Regions from separate parts of the Homo sapiens genome. Here regions 1 and 3 are each reported to be linked to region 2. Evidence: microRNA targets listed by miRTarBase, many of them from high-throughput screens and not tested one by one. Region 2 holds a microRNA gene; each other region holds the end of a gene's coding sequence.
What was found. The annotated mature microRNA hsa-miR-3145-3p reads AGAUAUUUUGAGUGUUUGGAAUUG and lies in region 2 at 5,504-5,527, shown strand. An mRNA with a match to its seed (bases 2 to 7 or 8) in the 3' UTR can be bound and repressed. Matches are read on the target gene's strand: a 7mer-m8 pairs with bases 2 to 8, a 7mer-A1 pairs with bases 2 to 7 and ends in A, and an 8mer does both.

Region 1: miRTarBase lists BCOR as a target of hsa-miR-3145-3p. Seed matches in the 3' UTR shown: 7mer-m8 at 8,122-8,128.
Region 3: miRTarBase lists RABGAP1 as a target of hsa-miR-3145-3p. Seed matches in the 3' UTR shown: 7mer-m8 at 6,459-6,465.

The regions. Positions count from the first base shown.
Region 1 is chrX:40,043,879-40,053,012 of GRCh38, forward strand. It overlaps BCOR (BCL6 corepressor), which reads right to left. Exons shown (of 15, transcript NM_001123385.2): 15 at 7,373-8,522. The coding sequence ends at 8,231. Among named protein-coding and RNA genes, the nearest start is that of LINC03053, 39 kb to the left of the region's middle.
Region 2 is chr6:138,430,607-138,440,749 of GRCh38, reverse strand. It overlaps MIR3145 (microRNA 3145), which reads left to right and starts at 5,456; the gene lies at 5,456-5,537. It overlaps NHSL1 (NHS like 1), which reads left to right. Exons shown (of 8, transcript NM_001144060.2): 6 at 7,070-10,143. RefSeq lists enhancers at 9,565-10,064, 10,065-10,143.
Region 3 is chr9:123,100,335-123,110,477 of GRCh38, reverse strand. It overlaps RABGAP1 (RAB GTPase activating protein 1), which reads right to left. Exons shown (of 26, transcript NM_012197.4): 25 at 8,715-8,912; 26 at 5,612-7,387. The coding sequence ends at 7,265. MIR600HG (MIR600 host gene) reads left to right here. Exons shown (of 1, transcript NR_026677.1): 1 at 1-984. It also overlaps a transcript of STRBP not described here. Among named protein-coding and RNA genes, the nearest start is that of MIR600, 6.2 kb to the left of the region's middle. RefSeq lists a silencer at 7,614-7,908.

The DNA.
Region 1 (9,134 bases), not on the chromosome of region 2:
CTCTGTGGCCCAGGCTGGAGTGCAGTAATTTGATCATGGTTCACTGCAGCCTTGATCTCCTGGGCACAAAAGATCCTCCCAGCTCAGCCTCCCCAGTAGCTGATACTATGGGCATGTGTCACCATGCCCGGCTAATTTTTTCTATTTTTAGTAGAGATGAGATATCGCCATGTTGCCCAGACTGGCACATTTTTGATAAGAACACTGTAGAGGTAATGCTGGGTCCTTCTTATCAGTGCCATATGGAGCTAGTCTGTCACAGTACTGGCTAGGCTCACTCACCTTGTATGTTCTCTGCTATAGACTCTGGGTCAAGCTTTTCTGCAGGCAGCCCCTGGTTCTTGACAGCAGGAAATGGCATTTAGAAACCAAGAACTTAGTGCTAGATGTGCTCATTGCTACTAGGGTGTCAACGTTTGTTAGGCCCTTTTAGTAGACAGAGCTTGGGAATCCACATTGTATTTGCTGAACTCTTGAATTGGCAATTCGTAGCCAACATCACAAGCTTCTTTCTCCCTTCTCCACATTTCATGTTTGTATATCCCTTCTCACAGAGTGGTTCCCATTACCATATTTATCATCTCATCTATCTCACAATGCATGTAAAAGGCTTTCAGAATTACAATACAATTACTAATTACAATTACAAATACAATACAGAATTACTACAAGAGATCTGCTGAGTAAAGTTCCAAGATATCTTTGCAATTATTTTTGTCCTTGGAATATATTTCACTAAGGATGTTCAAAACTTACTTTGGCAAATTCTTTTTCTGTGTGGTAATGTTATCAACGCGATATGGTTTCATTTGTTCCTGTTTACACTCAACTTCAATATTTGCCTTTATTCATCTATTTTTATTGAATTTGGTTTCTTGAATATTTAAACATTTACATGGTTCAAATGAAAACAACTATATCAATAGGAACACACAGAGAATTCTTGTGCCGTCCCTGACCCATCTCGCCTTTGCCACTGAGGTTTCTCCCTCTTTCCAGTTTTCCTGGTGAACAAACAAGTCATCACTAGATGGTAGAGATGAGAAAGGATACACATCTAGTTTGGAGAAATATGCAAACTGTGTGCAAGCAGAGGCAAGCTCCTTTCAGAATCCACTCCCCCCTTTTTAAGTACAGACCTTTTTTAAAAGGAGAATCTAAATATTTATCTAGTGTTTACTACCTGTTGGGCATTGTGCCAGGTGCTCAACATATATGGTCTCATTTAATCCTCACAACCCTGAAAGATACGTATTGTTTTGGGTTGAATTTTTTTGAGACAGGGTCTCACTCTGTCACCCAGGCTGGAGTCTAGTGGTGCAATCATGGCTCACGGTAGCCTCAACCTTCGAGGCTTAAGTAATCCTCCTGCCTCAGCCTCCCAAGTAGCTAGGACTACAGGTGTGTGCCACCATGCCTGGATAACTTTTAAAAGTTTTTTGTTTTTTGTTTTGTTTTGTTTTGAGACACAGTTTCGCTCTTATCACCCAGGGTGGAGTGCAATGGCATGATCTCAGCTCACTGCAACCTTCGCCTCCTGGGTTCAAGTGATTCTCCCACCTCAGCCTCCTGAATAGCTGGGATTACAGGCACCCACCACCACGCCAGGCTAATTTTTGTATGTAGAGATGGGGTTTCACAATGTTGGGCAGGCTGGTCTCGAACTCCTGACCTCAAGTGATCCGCCAGCCACAGCCTCCCAAAGTGCTGGGATTACAGGCGTGAGCCACCCTGCCCGGCCAACCTTTAAAGTTTTTATAGAGATGGGGTCTCCCCAGGTTGCCCAGGCTGAGATGCTCTCTTTCAAAAAATAACTTATTGTAGAAAATTTCAAACACACACAAAAATAGAGAGAAGTGCACAATTCAGAGACCTCCATGTACCCATTTCCTGCTTCAAAAATTACCTACTGATGGCCCGGCCAGGTGCGGTGGCTCACGTCTGTAATCCCAGCACTTTGGGAGGCCAAGGCAGGCAGATCACAAGGTCAGGAGATCGGGACCATCCTGGCTAATGCGGTGAAACCCCACCTCTACTATAAATACAAAAAATTAGCCGAGTGTGGTGGCAGGCACCTGTAGTCCCAGCTACTTGGGAGGCTGAGGCAGGAGAATGGCGTGAACCCAGGAGGCGGAGCTTGCAGTGAGCCAAGATTGCGCCACTGCACTCCAGCCTGGGTGACAGAGAGACTCCGTCTCAAAAAAAAAAAAAATAAATAAAAATAATTACCTACTCATGGGGCTTGTTTCATCTACATCTCCATCTTCTCCTCCCACTGGGATGATTTTGAGGCAAATCCCAGATATCATATACATAAAGATTTCAGCACACATTGCCAAAAGATTTGGAATAAAAAAAAAAAAAGTTCTGGGCCAGGCTTAGTGGCTCACGTCTGTAATCCCAGGCCAAGGCGGGAGGATTGCTTGAGCCCAGGAGTTCAAGATGAGCCTGGCCAACACAAAGAGACCCTATCTCTACAAATAAAAAAAATTAGTTGGTTGTGGTGGTGCACGCCTGTGGTCCCAGCTACTTGGGAGGCTTAGGTGGGGGAATTGCTGGAAACCAGGCAGTAGAGGCTGCAGTGAGCTGTGATTGCACAACTGCACTCCAGTCTCCGTGACAGAGCAACACCACATTTTAAAATTATATATATAAATATATATATATATATGTATATATATATATATATATATATATGTATATATATATATATATATATATGTATATATATATATATATATGTTCAGCATTCCTATTTCCCTGGTTTTTACAAATTTTGCAATTTTTTTTTCTTTTTTATAGTTTGTTCAAATCAGACTCACAGATCCATGCTTTACATTTGCTGGTATTTCTCTTGTCTCTTTTAGTCTAGAGGTTTCCTCCTCTGTTTTTTTTCCCCTTGCAAGTTATTTGTTAAATAAACTGAGCCATGTGTCTTTTTTTTTTTGAGATGGGTTTTTGCTCTTGTTGCCCAGGCTGGAGTACAGTGGTGTGATCTCGGCTCACTGCAACCTCCACTTCCCTGGTTCAAGCAATTCTCCTGCCTCAGCCTCCCGAGTAGCTGAGATTACAGGCGCCCGCCACCATGCCTGGCTAATTTTATTTTTATTTTTTTGTATTTTTAATAGAGACGGGGTTTCACCATGTTGATCAGGCTGGTCTTGAACTCCTGACCTCAGGTGATCCACCCACCTCAGCCTCCCAAAGTGCTGGGATTACAGGCCTGAGCCACCGTGCCCAGCCCCATGTGTCTTATAGAGTCTCACAGTTTGGCTTTTGCTGAATGCATACCCATAGTGTCCTAACGTGTTTCTCTGCCCCTTGTATTTCTTGTAAACTGGTAAGTAGACTTAGACCTACATTGTCCAGTGTGGTAGCCAGTAGCCACATGTGGCTACTGAGCACTTGGCAATGTGGCCAGTTCAAGCTGAAAAGTGCTGCAAATGTAAAATACACATTGGAGTTTCTAAAGTCTTGGTATAAAAAACAAAAGTGTCTCGTTAATGATTTCTGTATTGATTGCATGTCAAAATGGTAATACTTCGGATATACGGAGTTAAACAACATATGTTATAAAACTTACTTTTGGCCGGGCACTGTGGCTCATGGCCTATAATCCCAGCACTTTGGAAGGCTTAATTTTTTTGACACAACCCCACTGGCTTCTTGTATATATCTATACTCCCTTCCAATTCTTCCCTGCCCCAAACTGGAATCAACCATTTCTCAAATAAAGCTCAGTTGTTTTTAATGAGGAAAGGTATTTAGAAACCATAGGCTGGGAGCTATGGTGCTCATTTCTATCAGTCATTGTTTCCAGGCTTTTTGAGAGGACAGAGCTAGGAAACAAACTTTCCTAAGATAAAATATTAATACATCATGAGTTCATAGTGATACTTACAATTCATGTTCAGGGCTGGATAATTTATCTAACCTTGCCAATTCTATATTTTCATCTCCTTTCTCTCATGTTGAAGTCCCAGTTCTCAATACCAACATTTCCTTTTGTTTTATCTCACGACACAAACAGGACAGACTCAGAATAACAATACTGACACTACCAAAGATAAGATTACTGAAAACAACTATAAAAATGTTTTCAGGCCAGGTGTGGTGGCTCACTCCTGTAATCCCAGCACTTTGGGAGGCCAAGGTGGGTGGATCGCTTCAGCTCAGGAGAACAGCCTGGCCAACACAGCAAGTCTCCCATCTCTCCAAAAAAACAAAATAATTACCCCAGAATGGTGGTGCTTGTCTGTAGTCCCAGCTATTCAGGAGGGTGAGGCAGGAGGATTGCTTGAGCCTGGGGAGTTGAGGCGGTGGTGAGCCATGATTGTACCACTGCACTCCAGCTTGGGCAAGAGCGAGACGAGACCCTGTCTCAAAAAAATAAATAGGCCAGGCATGGTAGCTCACGCCTGTAATCCTGGCACTTTGGGAGGCTGAGGCTGGGTGGATCACCTGAGACCAGGAGTTCAGGACTAGCCTGGCCAACATGGTAAAACCCTGTCTCTACTAAAAACATAAAAATTAGCTGGGCATGGTGGCGGGTGCCTATAATTCCAGCTACTTGGGAGGCTGAGGCAGGAGAATTGCCTGAACCCAGGAGGCAGAGGTTGCAGTGGGCAGAGGTTGCAGTGAGCAGAGGTTGTACCACTGCACTCCAAGTCTGGGCAACAGAGCAAGACTGTCTCAAAAAATAATAATAATAAATAATAAAATAAAATAATAATAATTGGAAGACCACTCTAAAGCAAGTTAGGGAACTATTCCTCAATTCTTTTTCCAGTTGCATAGTATTCCACTGTGTGGGTGTACCATTGTTAACTCGACCAGTGCCCAACTGATGGAGATTTGGGTGTTTTGCTATTACATCAATTAACGTAAATGGCAGGTAGGGTAGGGCTGGTATGGTGGCTTGGTTCCAGGAGATTCTCAAAGACCCATGCTCCTTCAAACTTGTCCAGCAGTGCTCGACTTCGATACTTCATGGTCCAAGGTGGTTGTGACAGCTATAGCTAGAGCAGCCACATTCTAGCCAGGAAGAGGGAGGACAGGGCAAAGGAAAGCATGTCCTGATCCTAAGGGACACCTTCAGAATTGGAATGAACCACTTCTGCTGTCTACCCGTGGTGAGCTCCACTGCACTCATGTTGACCTTCATGGAAACTCTTCTATGTTGCTGGTGGGTTCCTGGACACCCAAATGAGGGCCTATAAAGGTCTGCTCTGTACCTCTGGTGAGCTCTTCTAAACCCATGGTGTTTCTATACGGCCAATACGATCTCATCTATGCCTGTGGTGTCTTCTACACCCACTCCCTTCCCCCCAGGAGGAGTTCTACTGGAATGGGCACTCTACCTGCAGTGGGATCTCACTTACACCTGTGTTAACATCTTTGCCTGTGGAGAGCTCTTCAACGCCCGAGGTGACCTTAGATCATGATTGCTCCAAACCTGTGGTGAGCACTTGAACACCCATGCTGAGTTCCTCTCAACACACAATAAGCTCCCCTACCTTCTGGTGACGCGTCCCTCTCCCTGTGGAGTGTGATCTGGCCCATACCTGTGGCCCACTCTATGTTCATGGTGAGCTCTATTACCCATGGGGAGTTCCTGAGCAGGGGTGGGGCATTGCTCTACATCCAAACCTTTCTCAGCCATGGGGATCTCATCTATACCCCCAGTCAGTTCTACGTCCATGTTTCCAACCACCCTGACAGTTCTTGCACTAACTGTTCTGACTACTAGCTCCTCCAACTGCATGAACCACAGCCTTAAATGTCTCCTGCACCAAGCTGCTTCTTCTGCACACCCTAACCTTGTGGCTCTCACCTGTTTTCCTAGCTTAATTAACAGAATGACCTTCATCCAAGATAAAAATCTCAGTTGGCCTTGGGCTCCCCCTTTGCCTCCAACCCCAATACAAAGAGCCGGATGCCCTTAAGTTTTTATTATTTTTTAAATCTGGGTGTGTAGGATCTCTCGTAGCTTTGATGGTAGTTCAGCTTCACCAGTCCTCTTCTGCTTAAATCATTTCTACAGGTCTGTTTTACTGGTCTTGTCGTCTGTTTTTTTCCCTTCAACACTCCCCCTAGCTATTTGAGGGGACTTCCTGTAAAACAAAAACTAAGTAAACTGTTAATAGTGGTTAACATGGGTGGGGGAGGGGAGGGGATAATAGGAAACGTGTCTATTTCTGACATGATTGGGTTTTTTAAATAAGGTATACATTTTCTAATATCAGAAAAATTAGTAAATAAGATGGTAGGCTGCCTTTTGTCTTCAAGATACACTCCAAACTTCATTCGTAGCCAACCTTCCCCCAAAAAGGGCTCTTGCATTCCTCACATGGAATTTCTTCATTCCCAACAATGCCTCACTTTTCCTTTTTTTTCTTCCACAGTGTTTGCTGGCCTGACAAATACAGTGTCCCCACAGCCTCTTTCCTCTGCTTTCGCAGTCCTAGTGTTCCATGCAGGATCAGAAAGCACTGAGGGCATTCGGTGCACAAATGGATTTGACACAAGGACCCAGATGAATAAGGTCTTTGGAAGGGCTGGGGGAACAGGAGTCAGGGACAACTCTGGATCCACAGGGTTCACGAACAATCTGCTGAGGCTGTCATCCAAGAATTAGAAAGCTGCCACTGCCACAACCACTACTGTATCTCATCACCCACCAAGCTGAAAACCAGACACTGGAATGCTGGTCAGTCATTCCAACTGGCTGGCATTCTCTTCAAATTTTCCTATCCGCAGCCACTATAGTAGGAAGGTGCCCCTACCTCATGCTGCCCTCCAAACAGAATATGCACTCAGAAAGCTAGCTGCAAGGGAGTCAAGTAGTTTTCAGCTTTCTAGCCTCTATAGTGAAGGACAGGCACAAAAGCAAGTGAGATGGAAATCAAGGGCCAACTGATAGTGCCCAGTGCAGATACTGCTGGGAAAAGTCAAGAACAGAGGAAAGGCTGGCTCTACAGGCCTTGACTCTCAGGCCATGCAACAGAAGGGCTGCAGAAGTGACATAACAAATGCCTAGCTTCAGAAAAAACACTCCTAGAGAGTTGGCCATGACGTGGGACTGAAATAGGTCAAGGCCAAAGGCAGTGCAAAAGCCTCCATAAGCATCAAAGGAGACAGGAAAGAGAAGGTTCTAAGAGACAGGAAATATGTCCAAGAATTGGGCTTTCAGAATAGGACTCCAAATTATATTCTGAGTATAACTCCTCCAAAATCCTCCAGTCTGCTTTGGTTTCCAGAGACTATAAATTGCTCTAAAGTTATCTATAGGGAATACATCACCAGCACCATTTAAGAAGAATCAGGGACAACAATAATGCTTTAGGAATACATGGGACACAAGGTACTTCAATTTTCTCCTTTCCTCAACAGTTTTATTGCCTTTTAAGAAAATTTTTGTAAAATATAAATACAAAGGCAGAGAATTTACTTACAAAGTTAAAACACAGATTTCAAACATAAACACACGATTCAGAAAATTTTAGTTTTATGTACATTTCCAAGCAACCTCAACATATTATGTTAGTTTTCAATATTTTACAGGGTACAGAAAAAAATAGCTCAAAGTCTTCTTTAAATAAGAGCATAAAATGTTTAAACATATAAACAATCCGGTTTGATGCGTGAAAACTAATTTCACAGCTTTTAAATTAGGATATAAAAGTTTCATACAATTAGTTGTTGTGTGTGGATATGGTTTGAATTTATATTACACACTACTGGATTACATCCAATAGCATTTACCTGGCCCGAGCAGGTACTCTGTAAACAAAACAAAGTTATATCACCAAGTGCCTTCCCCGAATTCGCTCCCTCAAACCAACCACACAGTTCTGACCACTCTACAGTCATGGCCTGTCATCAGAGCTTTGTATGAAATTAAGTCAAAGTGTGGAGCTCCTTTTACTCATTTTTTTTTCTCCTTAAAAAAGAAAAGAAACAAATGTTCCAAGTAAAAACAAACGTATCCCAAAGCATGTGTGCATTGAAAAGTAAAGAAACATTATAACAACTTCATAAAAACTGACTTAAAAGTTTAAAAGGAAAAAAACATGTTTCTAAGTCCTTCTGACTGGAGTAATTTCTCTTATATAAAGAAGAGATATTTTCATATGTAATAGTGTCCTTTCTTTACAGAAATAGTTGTATTATGACACATATGCACAAGGATTAACACTATAACACACTGTACATGGTGGGTCCAGCTTGCTCACCAGTAGTTGTCTGAGGCCAGATCACTGGGGTGGAGCCACTCTACAGAGGAGCCCAGCAGAGTCTGAATTTCGTTCGTGAATTCCACCAGATCTAACAGCTCCTTACTTTCAGGGTTGAAGGCTTCCAGGTCTTTGGAGCAAGAGAACAAGAGACTTGCAGAAACCTGCCGATAAAATTCTGCCTCTGCAATGGTGACAATTTCCACGTTTGGAAAATTGCAGCGAAATATGCGGGAGGACATTTTCAATTTCTTAAGGACATCCGAAAGCAGTAGCCAGTTTCGTGGCCTACAAAACAGAAAGGAAAATGCTTTGAGTTTCCAGTAAAATGAAAAGTGCGCCCAACTATTAATATTAACTACCAACCCAAGTGGACCAGCCTCTATGTCCTTTCATTCTGCTCCCACCCCTCATTTCTCACCATACCTACTCTCTGATCACCATTTTTTTTTTTTTTTTTTTTTTTTTTGGAGACGGAATCTCGCTCTGTCGCCCAGGCTGGAGTGCAGTGGCGCGATCTCAGCTCACTGCAAGTTCCACCTCCCAGGTTCACGCCATTCTCCCGCCTCAGCCTCCCGAGTAGCTGGGACTACAGGGGCCCGCCACCATGCCCGGCTACTTTTTAGTATTTTTAGTAGAGATGGGGTTTCACCATGTTAACCAGGATGGTCTCAATCTCCTGACCTCGTGATCCGCCCGCCTTGGCCTCCCAAAGTGCTGGGATTACGGATGTGAGCCACCGTGCCCGGCCATCGCCATTCCTTTCTAAGGTGAGGCAGAGTAACTACTTCTAGCAGTAGGAACTCTGGACTCATCTGTCCATCTAGGGAGGACCATCTGAATAAGCCCCATTTCTCCCCTTTCTGGGGGTAAAGTCCTGCTCATTCAGCTGTGACCACA
Region 2 (10,143 bases):
GACATTGTGCTTCTCTGTTTGTTTTCCCAAACATCCCTGATTGAATGCCTTGTATTAGAGAGCACAGACTCACTTTTCTTTAGCTGGCATTTTCTCCTTTACTGCCATCCACTTTTGTAGTATATATGCTCTGCCTTCCATGCTGTAGCAATAGTCAGGTGAGAATAGCAATGCTCTGCCTTTGCCGCAGGCAGCCACAGTGACCCAGATGGTATACAGGTGTTTGCCCTGTTCTATCATGGATTGGTTTATTACAAACAAAGGCAAGACTGCAGCAGCTCCCGTGGGATTGTGAAGTCTGTCTTTGGTTCGTGCCCCACATGCTGCTGCTATTAGTGGCCTGGTTCCTCTGTGGCTACCTGAGGTCTCCAGGCACCTTCCCTCAACCTACCTTAAGGAAACATGTGTGCTTTCTCTCTCTCCTCTCAGTTTATGCCTTATTCTTTCAGACTCTTTTTTCCATTCTTGAAGTGACAGCTAACTAATTCGGAAACTAATCTGTACTCATATGTTCAGTAGATAGTTAATGGAGTAATTTCCTAAAGCATTCCAGCAACATTTATACTTTAACTGGTCTTTTTAGGAGATGTGACTTCAAGGAGTGACTTTAAAGACAGGCATTTAGGCCCTTTGTAAGATCAGAAGGATAGTGTGGCCCAAGTAAAGATGCACATACACATAAGTATTCCATATGCATTGTCTGTATGCATATGTAATATGATGTCTAGAATGAGAGTTACAAATTTTTATCACTTTTATTACTGAACCAACCAGTATGGAAGCCAATAACTCAGTTGTTTCTTTGATCTTACTAGAATGTTCTGGCCAGCTAGATAAATCATATCTTTTGTAATTTTAGTATTTTTTAAATCAGTGATTAAAATCTCTGGAATCCACGTTCATTTCTTTTACATGTGACATGGAACGTCACTAATGCTGGAGGGAAGAAAATAGCTTTCCCCGCATCATCTGGGTTGTGACTGTTGCCAGACACGAGACAGTCAATATCATTACGGTCGATGACATGACCTGGATTAGAACTGGAGGTCAACTGAGACAACCGTATCTAAGAGCTAGTTTTTTTAAAACAAAAAAGATAATTAGACAAGGACTGTGGTTTTATAGATAGGCTAGTTGGAGGATTACTGGATAGAATGAGGAGTTAACATTTGTATACAGTTTTATTTAGCAAAAATATTGGATTACATATTTATTTGTTCTGTCCTTTCAGGACTTCTGGTTGATCTTGCCTTTTTTCCCAGTATTTTACACTTATAAGGACTCTGGTTTGGAAGTCTTAAACTACCAAGGTAGTATATCTAGGTAATGATTATCAAATCATACCTAGGTAATGATGATCAAAAATAGACACTTTATATTTTCTTTAAAATTAGTCTTCTTCTAGATATAAGACACACAAGGGAAGTATAACAAACAAATTAGACAAAAAAGAAAATGATGTCCCAAAGGAAAGGCATTCACTGGGAAAGATGCACCCTGTCCAAAAGATGTTGCCCAAGTTGCCAGCGGCTTTGGATTTTTAAAAAAATCTAACCAGAGAGGTACTTCCATGAATTAGAAAGGATTTATATTATCCTTAATTATATGCAGTTTTTATTTCAAAATCCACAAATAATAGACTCTGGAGACTAGCCAATATATAACACTTTAAAATCAAGGTATGATATTTAATGCTTATTTCCAAAACTTATCTGATAAACTAAAATTTGTTGCCTTTCGTTTCAGTGAATTGGACATTTTGAATTTTTTCTTTTATCTTAAATCTGTACAGAAATGTATCTGAACATCATCTTATGAGGTTTCATCTTTTAGAATCAGATAGGATTATTTTGTTGATATATATATATAACACTTGGCTACTGAACTTATCCCCATACATATTCTCTAAGCAGAAAAGGCCTCATCTAAAGGAATCCCTTTATTAATAATTTTTGGTAGTTTATACTAAGAAACTATCTACTTGACAAGACTTTTTAAAAACTCATAGCCTAATCCTTAAATAAACTAACTTGTAAATATTCAGCATCCTTAATTACATATATTTTTTAGAAATTCAAAATATTATTAATAAAAGAAAAAGTATAAATAATTATTTCTGTACATTATGTCTTAAAATCAGATAAATCCCATCAAGTTTGAGCAGCACCTAAGTGGTCTACACTTGTTTGTAGTTGTCTTTTTGTAGTTTGTTCCATCCTTTAATCTGTAAAGACATACCTCAGGGTTATTGCAGCTATAGTTCCAGACCACTACAATAAAGTGAATATTGCAATACAGCAAGTCACACGAATTTTTTGGTTTCCAGTGCCTATAAAAGTTATGTTTACACTGTGCTGTGGTCTACTAAGTTTGCAATAGCATTATGTTAAAAAAAAATGTACAGTGTAAAAATACCTGATTGCTAAAAAATACAAAGGATCATCTGAGCCTACAGACAGTTGTCATCTTTTTGCTGGTGAAGGGTCTTACCTCAAATTTGATGGCTGCTGACTGATCAGGGTGGTGGTTGCTGAAGGTAGGAATGACTGTGGCAGTTTCCTAAAATAAGACAACAGTGACATTTGCCACACTGACAGATCCTTCCTTTCTTGAAAGATTTCTCTGTAGCACGTAATACTGTTTATTAACATTTTACCGACAGTAGAACTACTTTAAAAATTTGAGTCAATCTCTCAAACCCTGCTGCTGCTTTATCAACTAAGTTCATATAATATTCTGAATCCTTTGTTGTCATTTTAACAATGTTCACAGCATCTTCACTAGTAGAGTCCATCTCAAGAAAGCATTTTCATTGCTCATCTGTAAGAAGCAATGCCTCGTTGTTCAAGTTTGATCATGAAATTGCAGCAATTCAGCCACATCTTCAGGCTCCACTTCTAACTCTAGTTCCTTGCTGTTTCTACCACATCTGGAGTCACTTCCTTCACTTCAGTCTTGATCCTCTCAAAAGTTATCTACGAGAGCTGGAATCAGTTTCTTCCAGACTCTTACTAATGTTGATATTTTGACCTTCTCCCATGAATTAAAATTGTTCTTACTGTGCTAGAGTAGTGAATCCTTTTCAGGTTTCCAACTTACTTTGCTCAGATCTATCAGAGGAATCACTATCTGTGGCAGCTTTGGCCTTACAAAATGCATTACAAAATTAAGACTTGAAAGTCAAAATTACTCTTTAAGCCATGGGCTGCAGAATGAATGTTGTGTTAACAGGCATGAAAACTTTGTACATCTTCATCAGAGCTCTGGGGTGACTAGGTGCATTGTATTTTTTTTTTTTTTTTTTGTGTGTGTGTGTGTGTGTGTGTGTGTGTGTGTATATGTGTGTATATATATATATATGTGTATATATATATGTGTATATATATATATGTGTATATATATATGTGTATATATATATATGTGTGTGTGTATATATATATATATATATATATACATTTGTGTATTTTTTTTTTTTGAGACAGAGTTTCACTCTTGTTGCCCAGGCTGGAGTGCAATGGCGCGATCTCAGCTCACTGCAACCTCCGCCTCCTGGGTTCAAGCTATTCTCCTGCCTCAGCCTCCTGAATAGCTGGGATTATAGGCATGTGCCACCACGCCTGGCTAATTTTTTTGTATTTTTAGTAGAGACAGGGTTTCTTTATGTTGTTCAGGCTGGTCTCGAACTCCTGACCTCAGGTGATCTGCCTGCCTTGGCCTCCCAAAGTGTTGGGATTACAGGTGTGAGCCACTGCCCCCTGGCCTAGGTGCACTGTAAATGAAAGAAATCTTTTTTTTTCTGAGCAGTAGATCTCAACTGTGGACTTAAAAGTATTCAGTAAATCATGCTGTAAGCTGACATGCTGTCATCCAGGCTTTGTTGTTCCATTTACAGAGCACAGGCAGACTCTATTTAGCATAATTCTTAAGGACTCCAGGATTTTCAGAATGGTAAAAGAGCATTGGCTTCAACTTAAAGTCACCAGCTACTTTGGCTGTAACAAGAGTCAATTTGTCCTTTGAAGCTTTGAAGACAGGCATTGACTCCTCCTCTTGTAGCTTTGAAAGTCCTAGATGACATCTTCCACTAGAAGGTCGTTTCATCTACATTGAAAACCTGTTGTCGAGTATAGCCACCTTCATCAATTAACCTAGCTAGATTCTCTAGATAAATTTCTGCAGCTTTTCCGTCAGCATTTGCTGCTTCACTTTTATGTTATATAAATGGCTCCTTTCCTTCAACCTCATGAAACAACCTCTGCTAGCTTCCAGCTCTTCTTCTATAGCTTCCTCACCTCTCTCAGCTTTCACAGAATTGAAGAGAGTTAGGGCCTTGATTAGGCTTTGGCTTAAGGGGAATGTTGTGGCTGGTTTGATTTTCTGTCCAGACCATTAAAACTTTCTCCATATCAGCAATAAAGCTGTTTTTTTATTTGTGTATGTTCTGGAGTAGCACTTTTCATTTCCTTCAAGAACTTTTCCTTTGCAGTCACAGCTCGGTTAACTGTTTGGCACAAGAGGCCTAGCTTTTGGCCTATCTTAGCTTTTGACATGCCTTCCTCACTAAGCTTAATCATTTCTAACTTTTGATTTAAAGTGAGAGACATGCAACTCTTCCTTTCGCTTGAACCCTTAGAGGCTATTGTAGGGTTATTAATTGACCTAATTTCATTATTGTTGTATCTCAGGGAATAGAGAAGCCCAAGAAGAGGGAGAGAAACTGGGAAACAGCTGGTCAGTGGAGCAGTCAGAACACACACAACATATATCAATTATATTTGCTATCTTATGTGGGTGTGATTTGTGGCACCCCCAAAACAATTACAATAGTAATATCAAAGATCACTGGTCACAGATCACCGTAACAGATCTAATAATAATGAAAAAGTTTGAAATATTGCAAGAATTACCAAAACGTGACACACAGACACACAGTAAGCATGTTAGAAAAATGGCATCAATAGACTTGCTCAACACAGGGTTGCCACAAACCTTCGACTTGTAAAAAAAAAAACAAAAACAAAAAAACAAAAAAAAAAACCCCAGTTATCTGCAATGCACAATAAAGCTAAGCACAGTAAAACGACGTATGCATCTATAGCATTCATCTGTTTCCTATCATATTCTGAAACTTTTTATACTGTGAAAATATTGGAGGGTCTGTTTTGGGAATAGAATTTTGGTGGTCCTTGTGATAAGATATATGAGTTTTTTCATATGCTTTTTAAGGTCTTTAGGAAATGTTTTTGTTTTAATAAGAAAGTTATACTTAGCTCTAGAGGGTGATAAAATAGCTGTATTTCTATTTTTTTTTACATGCCTAGAATGGTTTCACATTTAAAACTGCTACCCAAAAGTATCAGGATTTTGTTTATGCTACTTAAAGACAGTTAAAAATCTACCACTAACTCCATGCAAAAACTAGTACAATTTTGAAAGGAAAAAAAATGTATTTGTTTATATGAGTTCAACTCCAAACACTCAAAACTCATTGTTGAATGGAATGAGATATTTTGAGTGTTTGGAATTGAACTCGTATACACTGATACACCGATACCAGTCAACTTCCCATCTTCTAAATTACTAAATGGCAAAATTTTGCACTTCCTCAAAGTGGGTTTTTCTTCTGTCCTGCCCTTTTGCCCATTTCCCTCTCTGTGTGGGACAGCCTCGTGTGTGTGTATGTGTCTGTCTATCTGTCTTCAGTGAGTGAGTACTTGAAAGAGGGTAGAGAGAGGAAATAGATCATCTTCGCTAAAAATACAAGTATAAAAATTCCTCTCCATCATCACAGTGAAGGAGAAGGCTTTATGCTGGGATCCTTCCTTCCAGGGTGCCATCTCCTTTGAGGTTGATACAAGCACAGTGCTGCCATTTCAGTACTACCCTCTGCTATCTGAGTGAGCAAAAGGCATCCTATATCCAGTCCATGCCCTGGTTAGATTATGTGTTGGGAGAGGGAAGCCTTAGAAACCCCATCAGTCCTAGGGTCGCATCCAGGTGTCCACTGACACAGAGGGGTGTGCTTGACTCGCATTGCTCAGCAAAGCCCGTGTTGAGATAGATACTTTTGGGTCCTTGTTGGATGGAGATAACATAGGGAGAACTATAGTTTTACTACTATTTTTAGAGATTCGATTTGTCTTAAGGATTGACTTTTTTTTTTCTCAGTACACTTTGGGTAGGTTCTTGTCTTTGTGATTTTTTTTCTTTTTTCTCATAAGCTCTGTTCTTTCCTGGGTAGCTTGAAATCTAACTGTTTACACTTAAAGTTTACCTCGTCCACGTCCCTCTCTGTTGGCCCTTCCTTGTGTTTCTTTCTTTCTGTCTTTTTTTTTTTTTAACATACTATTCTCTGTTTGGTTGTAAAACTCCAACGAATAAATCATCCTAATTTGAGGAAATGTTCACTGGATCAGTTCCTGCCAGTTTCCCCAACTAGAACACAACAGATTGCTGTTGAATTTTGAATGTCACCAACAGACAGATAATGGCTTCAGATGGATAATGAAATGTTTGGAACACAGATGGGCCTGTAAATCAATTTTCTTTGCCTTAGAATTTCCTTCTGACATAAAGAATTAATGTAATTAACACTGTTTTATACCAGTACCCCTCAAATATGGTATCTCTGTGGCCCTATTGTTCAATTACTACATTCATCTACCTTTGGGAAAGATGTGTCACTGCTTGATAGATGGTCTGCACAGTCACCCAGTGGGCGAAAGGCTACCTTGAAGACTTTACTGAAAGGTGATTATTTCAAAGTAAATCCTCCTCTGAGCCCTTGGCAGCCTTGATCTTGAAGGGATACCCTGAGAATTCCATACGCAGCACTCAAGCCATAGGAGGATTGGAGGTACAAATTAAGAGAAGTACCTGACATTCATGACAATAATTTTCATTTTAGAGCTATCAGTAACTTTTTAAATGTACTTAGATACCTACAGGAGAAAGGAAATTAAATCAAATAGAAAAATTTTTTTAAAATTCTGTCAGAGGGGTGAGGGTACACGTGATGAACTATGGATTTTATTTTCAGGTAACAAGCCTCTTTCTGCTTTATCTCCAGCATCAGGCACTGGCCAAGATGATGCTGATGGCCACTCAGTGTACACCCCTGATCACTACTCTACACTAGGAAGGTTCAATAGCTGTCGGTCTGCTGGGCAGCGCTCAGAAACCAGGGACTCCAGCTGTCAGACGGAGGATGTGAAGGTCGTACCACCTTCCATGAGGAGAATCAGGGCACAGAAGGGGCAAGGCATTGCTGCCCAGATGGGCCACTTCTCAGGTTCCTCTGGCAACATGTCTGTGCTGAGCGATTCTGCAGGGATCGTATTCCCTTCCCGCCTTGACAGTGATGCTGGCTTCCATAGTCTTCCGCGTTCTGGAGCAAGGGCAAACATTCAGTCCCTTGAGCCGAGGCTGGGTGCCCTCGGCCCTGCAGGAGACATGAATGGCACTTTCCTCTACCAGAGAGGTCACCCACAAGCAGATGAAAACTTAGGCCATTTAGGAGGTGCCTCAGGGACTGGAACACTTTTGAGACCCAAATCCCAGGAGTTGAGACACTTCGAGAGTGAAAATATAATGAGCCCAGCGTGTGTGGTTTCTCCTCATGCAACCTACTCCACCAGCATCATCCCAAATGCCACACTGTCTTCCTCTTCCGAGGTCATCGCTATTCCCACTGCTCAGAGTGCGGGACAGCGGGAAAGTAAAAGTTCTGGCTCATCACATGCAAGGATAAAATCCAGAGACCACCTCATCTCCAGGCATGCTGTGAAAGGTGATCCTCAGTCTCCCGGTCGCCACTGGAATGAGGGCCATGCCACCATTCTTTCACAGGACTTAGACCCTCATTCCCCTGGTGAACCCGCACTGTTGTCCCTCTGTGACTCAGCCGTCCCTCTAAATGCTCCAGCAAATAGGGAGAATGGGTCCCAAGCTATGCCGTATAATTGTAGAAACAACCTGGCCTTCCCAGCCCACCCCCAAGATGTGGATGGCAAGAGTGAATCTAGTTATTCAGGGGGCGGAGGGCACAGCAGCTCGGAGCCCTGGGAATACAAATCCTCAGGTAATGGAAGGGCATCCCCCCTGAAGCCGCATTTAGCAACTCCTGGCTATTCCACTCCCACAAGTAACATGAGCAGCTGCAGTTTGGACCAAACGTCCAACAAAGAGGATGCTGGGTCGCTGTATTCTGAGGACCACGATGGCTACTGTGCATCTGTGCACACTGACTCTGGACATGGATCTGGGAATCTGTGCAATAGCAGTGATGGCTTTGGGAACCCCAGGCACAGCGTGATCAATGTTTTTGTTGGAAGAGCTCAGAAAAACCAAGGGGACCGGTCCAATTACCAGGATAAATCCCTATCAAGAAACATCTCTTTGAAGAAAGCAAAGAAGCCTCCCCTGCCACCCTCCCGGACAGACTCCCTCCGCAGGATTCCCAAGAAGAGCAGCCAGTGCAACGGGCAGGTGCTCAACGAGAGCCTGATCGCCACACTCCAGCACTCGCTGCAGCTGAGCCTCCCAGGCAAGAGTGGCAGCTCGCCCTCCCAGAGCCCCTGCAGTGACTTGGAAGAGCCCTGGCTGCCCCGCTCCCGGAGCCAGAGCACAGTTAGTGCTGGCAGCAGCATGACTTCCGCCACCACCCCCAATGTCTACTCCCTGTGCGGGGCCACGCCATCGCAGAGTGACACAAGCAGCGTCAAGTCAGAGTACACGGACCCCTGGGGTTATTACATTGACTACACGGGCATGCAGGAAGATCCGGGGAACCCGGCAGGGGGCTGTTCAACCAGCAGTGGGGTGCCCACTGGGAACGGGCCAGTCCGCCATGTCCAAGAAGGGTCCAGAGCCACAATGCCCCAAGTGCCCGGTGGTTCAGTCAAACCAAAGATCATGTCACCAGAGAAGTCACACAGAGTCATTTCTCCATCCAGTGGGTATTCCAGCCAGTCGAATACACCCACAGCACTCACCCCTGTGCCTGTGTTTTTAAAATCAGTGTCACCAGCAAACGGGAAGGGGAAGCCCAAGCCCAAGGTACCAGAAAGGAAGTCCTCTCTGATATCTTCAGTATCCATTTCCTCATCGTCCACTTCTCTTTCTTCTAGTACTTCTACTGAAGGAAGTGGCACTATGAAGAAGCTGGATCCAGCCGTGGGCTCTCCCCCGGCTCCTCCTCCTCCTCCTGTTCCCTCTCCTCCATTCCCTTGTCCTGCAGACAGGTCTCCTTTCCTTCCTCCCCCACCTCCTGTCACAGATTGCTCCCAGGGCTCTCCTCTGCCTCACTCTCCTGTGTTCCCCCCTCCGCCGCCAGAAGCTCTCATTCCTTTCTGCTCCCCACCTGATTGGTGCCTTTCTCCTCCCCGCCCTGCACTGAGCCCCATTCTTCCAGATTCACCTGTGTCCTTGCCATTGCCCCCACCTCTCTTACCTTCCTCGGAACCCCCACCTGCCCCACCTCTTGACCCCAAATTCATGAAAGACACCAGGCCGCCTTTCACAAATTCTGGCCAGCCAGAATCCTCCCGGGGATCCTTGAGGCCGCCTTCTACCAAGGAGGAGACCAGCAGGCCCCCCATGCCCCTGATAACCACGGAAGCATTGCAGATGGTGCAGTTGAGGCCCGTGAGAAAGAACTCAGGCGCTGAGGCGGCACAGTTGTCTGAACGAACAGCTCAGGAACAACGAACTCCAGTTGCTCCACAGTACCACTTAAAGCCATCTGCTTTCCTGAAATCCCGAAATAGCACAAATGAAATGGAGAGTGAAAGCCAGCCTGCCTCTGTGACAAGCTCGCTTCCGACGCCTGCCAAGAGCTCGAGTCAGGGTGACCATGGCAGTGCGGCTGAGCGTGGTGGCCCTGTGAGCCGCAGCCCTGGAGCTCCAAGCGCTGGGGAGGCAGAGGCTCGGCCCAGCCCCAGCACCACCCCACTCCCAGACTCTTCACCCAGCAGGAAGCCACCCCCCATTTCCAAGAAGCCCAAACTGTTCCTGGTGGTACCACCTCCGCAGAAAGATTTTGCAGTGGAGCCCGCAGAGAACGTGAGCGAAGCCCTCCGAGCTGTGCCCAGCCCCACGACGGGAGAGGAGGGCTCTGTGCACAGCAGGGAGGCAAAAGAGAGT
Region 3 (10,143 bases), not on the chromosome of region 2:
GAGCCTTTGGTCTAAGTGGTTGGTTGGTCCCAGCCACTTCTTCAAAAGAAGGTTTCCTGAGGTAACCATAAATTAGGGCAATCGTACTTCCAGGAACAGTGAGGCTGATGGGCCTGTTCCCAAGGGTACTTTGGCAGGGGGTGCTGGGGAAGGGGCTGGCCTAGGGCCAGGTTCATCATACCGTTAGCCCTGCAGCCCCATGCCTGTGTGTCCTGGTTTACCCGCCGTGTAGTGGTCCTGCAGGAGTGGAGCCTGTAGGACTTGCTTCTCAGCGGCTCCAAGCAGAACTCTGTCTGGGAAGGTGGGAGGTGCAGCCAGTCTAGACCTGAAGCCCTCACACTAAGGACTAAGGTAGGCCTGCTCAGCCTTAGCCCTTCGTCAGGCCCAAGGGTGGGGGAGGCAGGAGGAGGCTGAGCGTAGTCGTGGATAGAAACCTTTCCCTACCGCACGGTTACACACATGGCATGGGACTCCTGGCTGTAGCTCACTCGGGTCTACTGAAGACCAAGTTGGTTTTTAGAAATCTATTTAAAATATCTATCATGTATCTATTTACTGTGTTTTTCTGAATACGCAAGTGTAAATAGTATAATTTGCAGTGCAAAATCCTTGGCAATAACTTTGTGTATTATGTTTAAAAACACTGGAAACCGTGACCACCATGGACTGCCCTTCCCCTCTGAGGCAATTATTACATGTAGGACTCTGAACTTTAAACCTTCAGCGTGACTGAAGCAGCAGCCTGCACATGTGGATGGTCATCAGTGCCTCGCCCAGAGATACCTGGCCTTCATCCAAAGGGACCCTGCTGCCACAAGTCCTCCAGGCAGCACCCGCACTGTGGCTCCTTCGCACTGAGTATGTTGGACTCTGCCATAGACTGACCCTCTTGTCTGGCTGCTGCAGTTTGTCTGTAATGCCCTGACATGTTGCATTCTCCCCATTTGGATAAATAAAAACAAACAAATGCTTCTGTCACACACAGTAATGGATTGTTCTGTGCAAGACCCACTGATAAAATGAAGGATACAGCTTTGGTGAAAGGTTCAAGTGCAGGCTCCCTTTTCCTGGCCCTTAAGGCTCTAGTTCAGTACATGTTACAGGTTCTTCCCTTCATGCAAAGGGATGGAGGGGCCGAGGATGTTTGAAGGGGGGTGGATGGCTCCTGATAATGGACAGTGATTTGGGTGGGGCCAGGGCCTAATTCATGATCCCGTTATGGTCCTTAAAACCCTGCCTCTCTGTGGTGTGAAGTTTCCTCAACATGAAACATGAACCTGGCACCCTGGCACAGTGAGTGGTAAGTGATGTCATGTTGAGTGAGTGCTGACCTCTTAATCGTCACACCTGTTCGCGGGGTCAGTAATACCCAGACAGACAATACAGATCGGAAACCGAGGCTCAGGGTTAAAGGACCCTGCCCAATGGTGTCGAGCTTCTAGAGGGCGGCAGCAATTGGAACCCAAAGCTAAGGCTCTTCTTCCTGCTGCCTGCTTTTCTGCAAGGCTTCTGCAGTTGAGCTGCCCTAGTAACTGAGAGCTCAAGACCACAATGTAGTCCCAGTCCACTTGGAAGGACGAGGATGAAGAAGGTCCGGTAGCCCAGGGAAGTGTCCTGGTGGGGAATCGGGCCAGGGGCTGCTGCTGCTGCTGCTGCCTCCAGGTAAGTGGAGAGTTGTGTGGGCAATGGCGCCGGCTGTGTTTGCCTCACTTTAGAACTCAGGGCCCCGCCTTCTCCCTATACATCATCAGGCTGGATCTACGACGACGCAAGAATTGACTGAAAGAAAGAAGAGCCGCCCGGGCCAGCTCTCTGCTGTTCCCATCCTCATTCCCAGGTTGGCCTTTCTGAGATTGAGGGACGGCTAGGCTTTCTTGTTCACAATTGCCACAGGCCTCAGCTGCACAGGAGACAGGTTGTTGAGGTGGAACTGGGAGAGGGGGAGGGAGGGAGCATTGTCTTTCTTGCTCTTGGGCCCTGGAAGAGAAGGTGAAGGTGGTGGTATGTGGTAGGAAAACTAACTCCCCGATGGTGTGGTCACAGGCAGACTTTTCACCTTCACTTTCAAATTTGGGAATAACATCACTGAACTCAGGGGTGTTCTGATGACTGGAGGGAGAAGAATACAGGAAAAGAGCCAAGGGCGTCACAGGAGAACCCAGCAGCCCTGACGAGCCAGGCACCAGACCCACTGCACAGATCAGAACTCAGGAAGGTTAAGTGAAATGTACGTCCAAGGGTATGGCCTGGCCTTGAACCCTGAGTTTCTGTGTGTGTTGCTTGCAGTACAATGCTGTGACGGTTTACACCTACCTGCTTCCACACGGTCATCTTTAAGCAGCCACCCTGCTGGTTACTGACAGAAGTACGAGTCAACATCCCAGCCGTCTCTCTGAGCCCATCTCTCTTCACCTATCAATCAATCAATCAAATGTGGAGGGCAGAGAACTCAGCACTCATGTCTGTTGTTCTGGGAGTGCCTCAGTGCCCATTCTGGGCGGCTCCAGTCCTCATATCTGCCTGCTCCAGCGTTCCTGTTCTTTCATCACCCCCCAAATGAATCTTAGAAGAGGATTTAAATCCCAATGTCAGAATCAGGCATGTCTCTGAGCGGTGAAGTGACTCTCCAAGGCCACAAGGGGCCCATGTCACCCATTGCGCTCCCCTCTGCATGGGCTCTGGTTTTCACAACTGATGGGTCAGCTCAAACATGGGAGTTGTGTTCTGGGCTTATTCGGGTAGCCGGTGGCTCTCTTCTTCACCCCCCTCACTACTCAGCCCCTGCCCCTGGGACTTGACTTGGAATTCAGAAGAGGTGCAGACACTTTGGGGCTGATAGCTCCTGCCATTCGGTCTGAGCCGCTGCCTCCCCACTGAGAATTATCAAGGCCCTGGAAATCAGCTTGGTTTGCAGCAGGGCCTGCCAAAGAAGGTCCACTCAGCCTGTGCTGCATGCTTGCCGACCTCGTGAGCAGGAGACAACAGGTGCCCAAGGTTGGAACCACAGTCTGAGTGGCCCAGCACAACTGCTCTTCCTGCCACAGTCCCCTCTGACCACTGGCCTTGCTTGCCCACTTCCCTCACAGCCAGGCTTCTTAAAATCTATACTTGCTTGTCTCTGCCTCCTGCCCTCCCATCATCTCAACTGTAGTGGCCACTGCCCTAACAACCTTCCAGCTCCCAAATCCAATGAAGCTTTTCCAGTCCTGCCCTCATCCCCACCCCAAGGTAGCTCTTGCTCCTCTCTGGCCGTCTATGCTCCATTCTCCATGTCTTCTCTCCTGCTCCTTGAATGGCGGCTCCTAGCCCTTGTTTAAGCTGTACATTATCTAGGCAGTCTCTCCAGGCTCCTAGCTTCAGCTTGCTCGAGCAATGGTTCTCAATCAATCAAGGGTGATTTGGCCCCCTCAGGGAATATTCGGCAATACCTGAAGACGTTTTTGGTTGTGCCACTTGGCGTGGGGTAATGCACTAGCATCCAGTGGATAGAGGCCAGGGATGCTGCTGGGATTACACAGGACAGACCCCCTACAGCACAAAAGTATCAATCAGCCAAATCATCAACAATGAGGTCCAGAAACCCTGCGCTAGAGATGCCAAACCAACAACTGAGCAGCTGTAGATTGCCAGCATCTCCAACCTGCAAGTCCCAGACTATTTCAAATCTATACCCCGACAGCTAAATTTATCATCTTCCTGGTGTGTCGTCACTCTCCCTAAATTTCACTGACTCCGTTCTCCATTCCTTATTCTATCATCTGTCACCTCTGCTCACACCCTTAATTTCTTCTCCTCCCGATTTTTCTTCCTAAAGGATCAGCAGGGAACCACTCAAAGTGCAAGTTAGCTTAACCCATTTATGCCTAGTGTTCCATTATTGGAACGCTAAGCTTGTGGGAGTTATTTATATCCTACTGCTTAAGGTCATCGCCAAGGTCTGATTTTTCACACAAAAAAATTTGTAACCTCTGGCATAAATGGGTTAAAACTCTCCAGTGACTCCTTATCAGCTCCAAACTCCCTGGCATGGCCGCAACCTAATTACCCAGTTTCATCTCTCATCACCCCACCTCAAGCCGACTTTACTACTATTCTTCCCACCTAAATGCCGCTGTCCTCTTGCTGCTCCTCTGCCTAGCTAGCAAGTCCCTTAGTTGTCAGTCACAACTGTCACTACCACTTTGTCCCTCCTGCATTTATACATAACCTTCCCACAGGATCCCATGCACCTGTACACGACTTACCATACGGTGTCACATTATTCTCAGTCTCAGCCTCAACATAACCAGGGGACCTCCCCAAAAGCAGAACCCTCATCCGAGTCGTTTGAGGCCTGTGTGCCAAGACTAAATAGTATATGGACTCCTTTTCTTGGGCCAGTACGCAGCTACAGGGATGAGGATTCTGCTGAGTCCCTGCCCTACTGAACACAGAAGCCATGGGACAGGAAAAGCATGGAGCAGGCTGATCCAGAATGTGGATCCCAGAAACATGTCCTCCAGCCTGCAGCCTGTGAGCATCAAAGGGACCTAGCTGTGCTCTGGAGCCACAGTCCTGGCTTCTGCAAGAGTACCTGCCAGGGGCTGAGCCCTATGCTAGGAACTTTCCTAGTTTCGTTGCAGTGGAGAAAGACAGACAGACAGGGCAGGGGCCCACCTGCTCTCTGTCTAATCTGTATCTCTATCCCTATCTATCTATCTATCTATCTATCTATCTATCTATATCTATCGATCTATCATCTATCTATCCATCTTATCTATCTCATCTATCTATTATTTTATCTATCATCTACTTTATCTATCTAATCTACATTTATCTGTCTGTCTGTCCATCCAGCCATCCATCCAGTCATCCTTCTTGCAGGCATGAAGCTATGGTCTGTTCAGCCTGCATCCATTTAAAGGCTAGGCATAGGTGGGGTCCTAGAGGGCAGGTCAAGCGGGAAGGGGGAACCGTAAGATTAGGGAAGCTTCGTTCTTCTTCCTGCTATGGAGAAGGGGGTTGAGGTGGTGAAGAGGGGCAGCAGAAGGCCTGGGAGCCTCATCTGTATGGTGCAGGGATGTGGAGGACAGGCGATAGGAAGAAAGAGGCTCTGAAAAGATGATGACAACTCCATGTCACTGCTTTTAAAGCTTTTAGCAGACCACAGCCGGCCCCCAGGTGCTCAGCCTGCCTTTCTACTCTTCAGCTGTTTCCCCTGCACATGCACACTTTGGCCCTGGAATTCCCTCTTCCATCTCTGCCTGGTGAGATGCTTTTGCCTTTGAAGGTCTAATTTGACCCTTACCTCCTGTAAGGCTTCCTTAAGCCTCAAAAACACCAAGTGTCCCTCATCCCTGCTACTACAGCATGTTATTTCTCAGAGGGGCAATGTTCATCATAAACAAACACAGAGGCATCAACGTCGTCATCTTGCCCCATGTGGCCTGCCACACCCTACCACTCCATACGTCTCAACAGGTGGGTGAGGGGCTGCCTCGCGCTCACACATGCCTCTCTTACAGCACACACAGTGGTCTTCTCTGACTGCTTCTGTGCGCAGGGGATGAGGGAAGAAGGGGAGGCGACAGGAGTAGGTGATGACAAAACTGGTTTTTACAAAGCAATGCTGTTTGTTTGTACCAAAATATTTAATCAATATGCTGTTAAAATAAAACCAACAAAAGAAACAGTAATACAATTTTACTGGTTTATATTTCAATTCATAAAGTTGACACACTGAAACTACCTTAGCACAATGTCCACACACCTAGCATTAGATAGGCTTACAGCTATTTTGGTAACTGAACAAGAAAGACACAGAAAGCAGCAAAGGGGATGGTTGGTGGGGAGGGGGTTGCCACTTGTTACCTCCCTTATTACAGATAACCTCAGCAAGCGTTAGTACAGCCAATAAGAAAAAGAGCTACAAAACAACCCGAGTGTCTTTATATACAAAACCAGTGCCTCTTGTAAGCAGCCGCCTCAACACTGAACGCAGAAAAGAGGACAAAACCATCTGCGTGTCAGCCTGTCAGCATATCACTATATAAATTAAAAGTCAAAGTTTTTTTTTTTTTTAAAGGTGCTAAAATCCATTCCATAGCTTTGAAGTGAGAACTTACAGCCCATCTGAACAGTGAGGTTTGTACCCAGGCATACTCTGAGGAGGGCCCAAAGGCCCAGCCCATCTGGGAGGGACAGGCCCGGAGGATGGAGACCTCGCAGCATGTGCACCCTGCGCAGACATTTACAGACACGCAACTCAGTCTTTCTCACTTGGACAACCTGTTGTGCAAAAACACTAGGAATCTTGAAGTGAGGGAGCTCTGTCCACAGCTCCCGTAATGGCAGGGAGGAGAGCAGAGCCCAATGAACCTTGAGTGAAATTAAGTGCTCGAATAACCACATAATTAAATTGTGCAGATCAGCAGTCCTAGTCTGGAATTTAAACACTGTCAACGGGGCATATTGGGAAAGATATTTATATATATATATACATACACACACACACACACACACACACACACACACAAACACATTAAGCAAAATAAGATTTGTCCATGTTATAATCCAGTCTCACAGTCAAGTCACCCACCCCAGCCTTTTGAAGTCATTTGGCAGCTAATGCTAAAAAGTAACAGGAACTATGAGAGTTGCATAGAATTGATCAGAAACATGAATAATGCCAAACCCAAAACCTGCACCATACAGTTTAACAGAACCAGGTGGCTTCAGATGCAACTATGAAACCCTCCTATTTAAAACAAAGTGCTTCTCCATGTCTACCTGGGGGACCTTCTGCTGGCATTGAAGCAGAAAAGAATTATTTGAATTTCTGATCCCTTGCCCCACCCCCACTATATATATATATATATATATATATATATATATATATATATATATATATGTATATTAAAAAAAAAAGGTTTAGAAAAAAAATCAACAGACTGAAGGATCCCCTAACTCTGATCATGTAAACTCAGCCTTTAGGCTGGGTGAGGTGTTGACGTACACGGGGAAGAGGCCTGGGAGGTCACACTGAGGAGTGATTTCTAGAGTGTCCAGAGCGTCGGCTGAGCTAGCAGGCCTGTTAGTATCAGTAGTCTTACCCCAGAGGTTGCCTGCTTCACAAGCTCTGGTCCAGTGACCTACCAACATGCGTCTATGGATCTGACTTAGGTACATTCTGGTCCTGGGACAAGTCACAGAATCACACATCTGGCCAAAGAAGGCAACAAAAGGTGTCGTGTTTTCTGAAGGTGTCGGGAGGCGGCAGCTGCTCTCAGCAAGTCTCTTTCCCTTGAACCCCGGTTGCTGTCTTTATGGAGCTCAGTGTTCGGTTAAACCACGTCTTCTTGGCTGCCTGCACCTCATTGAGGGCAAGCCCTAAATGGTGTTCCAAGTCCTGCAAGAGGAACAGTGTGCATGAGGATGCTGGGCTTGGTGTCAATGACACTGGCTCCCCAGAGGAGAACCAAGACAAGAATGCAGTCTATTTACTCTGGAGAGGCCTCGGGGAATTCCCCCAGTCTCCAACTGGCATAGAAATGCCTGAAATGCCTAAAGATTTGGGAGCTTTTAGTTAAGATCTAATTTCTTGCCTGGTCTATTTATTAAAACAGTCTTCTACTTGCTATGTCTCCCTCTTCTGTCCACCTAATGCACACCAGGCAGACAGGTAATGCTCTATTTCTGGTGACATCATTTCATTTTGGCAAAAATCTTTAAACTCCCTAGCATGGCATTTGAAATGCTTCGCAATCTGGATCCACACACTCTCTTCCAGCCTTAGCACCACCTCCATCCCCTACTGCAAGGAAAGAACTCCTGAGGGTCCTTCCTGGGCAGCCACTCTCCTCCTTGTGCTGCTGAACATGCCACTCCCTCTGCCTGGAATTGCCACTGTTCTCTCTCTCCTGTAGCTACAAGCCCTGTGCATTCTTTGATCACAGCACAGCTACTGCTGCCTTGGTGATGCCTTTCCTGATTATTCCGGGTAGTCACACTACCAGGCCTTAGCTTTGCAGTCCCAGACCTATAACAGGGCCTGCCAAAGAGCAGATGCCCAGTGAATGTGTGCCATGAGGGAGAATCAGCCCTAAAGCTTTTATCCTGAACTTGTTCCCTCCATAAACAGTGCTTAGGGTTTAGTGGTGCTGGTGGACCTAGCAATGTGTATTAAGATGACCAAAACAAGCCCTAACTTCTTTATCAGGAAAGGAGGCTCAGATAGGTAGTATATTAACAGTCACAAAGCTAGTTAAGTGGTGGGAACTGGAAGAACAAAAGCTTGCATTTATAAAGCCCCCGACATTCTGCCAAGCCATTTGTGCACACTATCTTACTTAGTCCTCAAACCAACCTATCAGATAGGGACTCTCATCATTTCCATTTGTAGATAAGGAACCTGAGATGTAGGGAGGTTACTAACCCAAGGTCAAACAGTTCAGTGGTAGAGCTGTGTTTCTAAAGCACTGTCTTCTCATCCCATCAAAAGATTCCAAGCTTTTGTGTATTATTCTCAATATGACAGCGGAAATCCTCAAGACAGGCCAAATACTGATGAGACATCCACTGGCCAGTAACAAGTCCTATATTTCTTCTCATGACAACTGTGACCAAAGTTTAAAAGGTGTGGAAAAACCCCAAACCATAAAGATAATTTCTGGGGTCTCTAGTGCACATCAGGAAACCCAGCCCGCAGGCACATGTCTGAGCTCTGCTGCTGTTACCTGTATCTTACACTCGGCCTCCACCAGCTGGAGTTTGGTCTGTGCCAGTTCTAGCTCCATTTCTCTCAGCTGGTTCTTGAGCGTCTCTTTCTCTTCATCCGTGTCCTCATCTAAAACCTCCTTGGTTGAGCTTATGCCTTTTACACGCCCTTCTTTGTTGAAAAATTCCCGGCACCGCTCACAGTCATCCACTTTTTGCTGAAATTGAATGTTAGATGTGAAGAGGCAAAGAAGAGGAACTGGCCCTTTAGGATGGTGTGAGCATCTCCTTTGGGGGACACCAAGAGACGGCTTCTCTGTTGAGCACTACAGTTTCTGAAAACCTGTGCTCTTTGTAAACTGGCAGATAACCTACTGGAAAAGCCACTTGGTATTATACACCAAAAATAATAAAATTATCATTGTCTTGATTCAGTAATCTCACTTCTAGGAACCCAGGCTGAAAAATGAAGCTGTAACTAGATAAAAATTTATGTACAAAAATTTTCACTGTAGAACTGGAGACAGGCAAAAAAGCAGGGGATAAACTATTCAAAAACAATTAAATATTAAATATACTGTGCTATATTTATACAAGGAAGTACACAGCCTCTAAAAGGTTTTTGAGGAACTTTTATAACATTGGAAAATGGATGCATGCTGGTTGAAATAGAACACAAAAATGTACATAAACTATGATTACAAATAAAATGTATTCCACATTTCATCAAAATAAGATGCCATTAACTGTAAGAAATGTCATTTTATGTTCCTCTAAGAAAACATTCTGCCAATTAAACCACAAAAAGCCAATTATAAAACATCCGACTTTCAGAGATGTAAATGTGAAAAGAAATGCTTATCTCAGAATGAATGAAATTTTAGACGTTAAACACTGAACAAAGACTGAAAGAATACACACCACAGTATTAATAAAGATGTTATATGTGGAAAATGGATCATAAGGGCTTTTTTCCCTTATTTACTCTTCTTTTCCAAATTTTCTGCAAGAATATTAAAGTTTTAGAATCAGAAAATAAGTTCTGTTTAAAAACCAGATCTGGTTGGCCAGGCGCAGTGGCTCACAGCTGTAATCCCAGCACTTTGGGAGGCCAAGGCGGGTGGATCACGAGCTCAGGAGTTCGAGACCAGCCTGGCCAAGATGGTGAAACCCTACCTCTACTAAAAATCGAAAAATTAGCTGGCACGGTGGCACAAGCCTGTAATCCCAGCTAGCTGGGAGGCGAGGAAGGAGAATAGCTTGAACCTGGGAGGCGGAGGTTGCAGTGAGCCGAGATGGCGCCACTGCACTCTAGCCTGGATGACAGAGCAAGACTCTGTCTCAAACACACACACACACACACACACACACACACACACACACACACACACACACACACATCTGGTTAAACATTAATTATGACGAAGGCCAGTGTCATCCTGCTCTAGG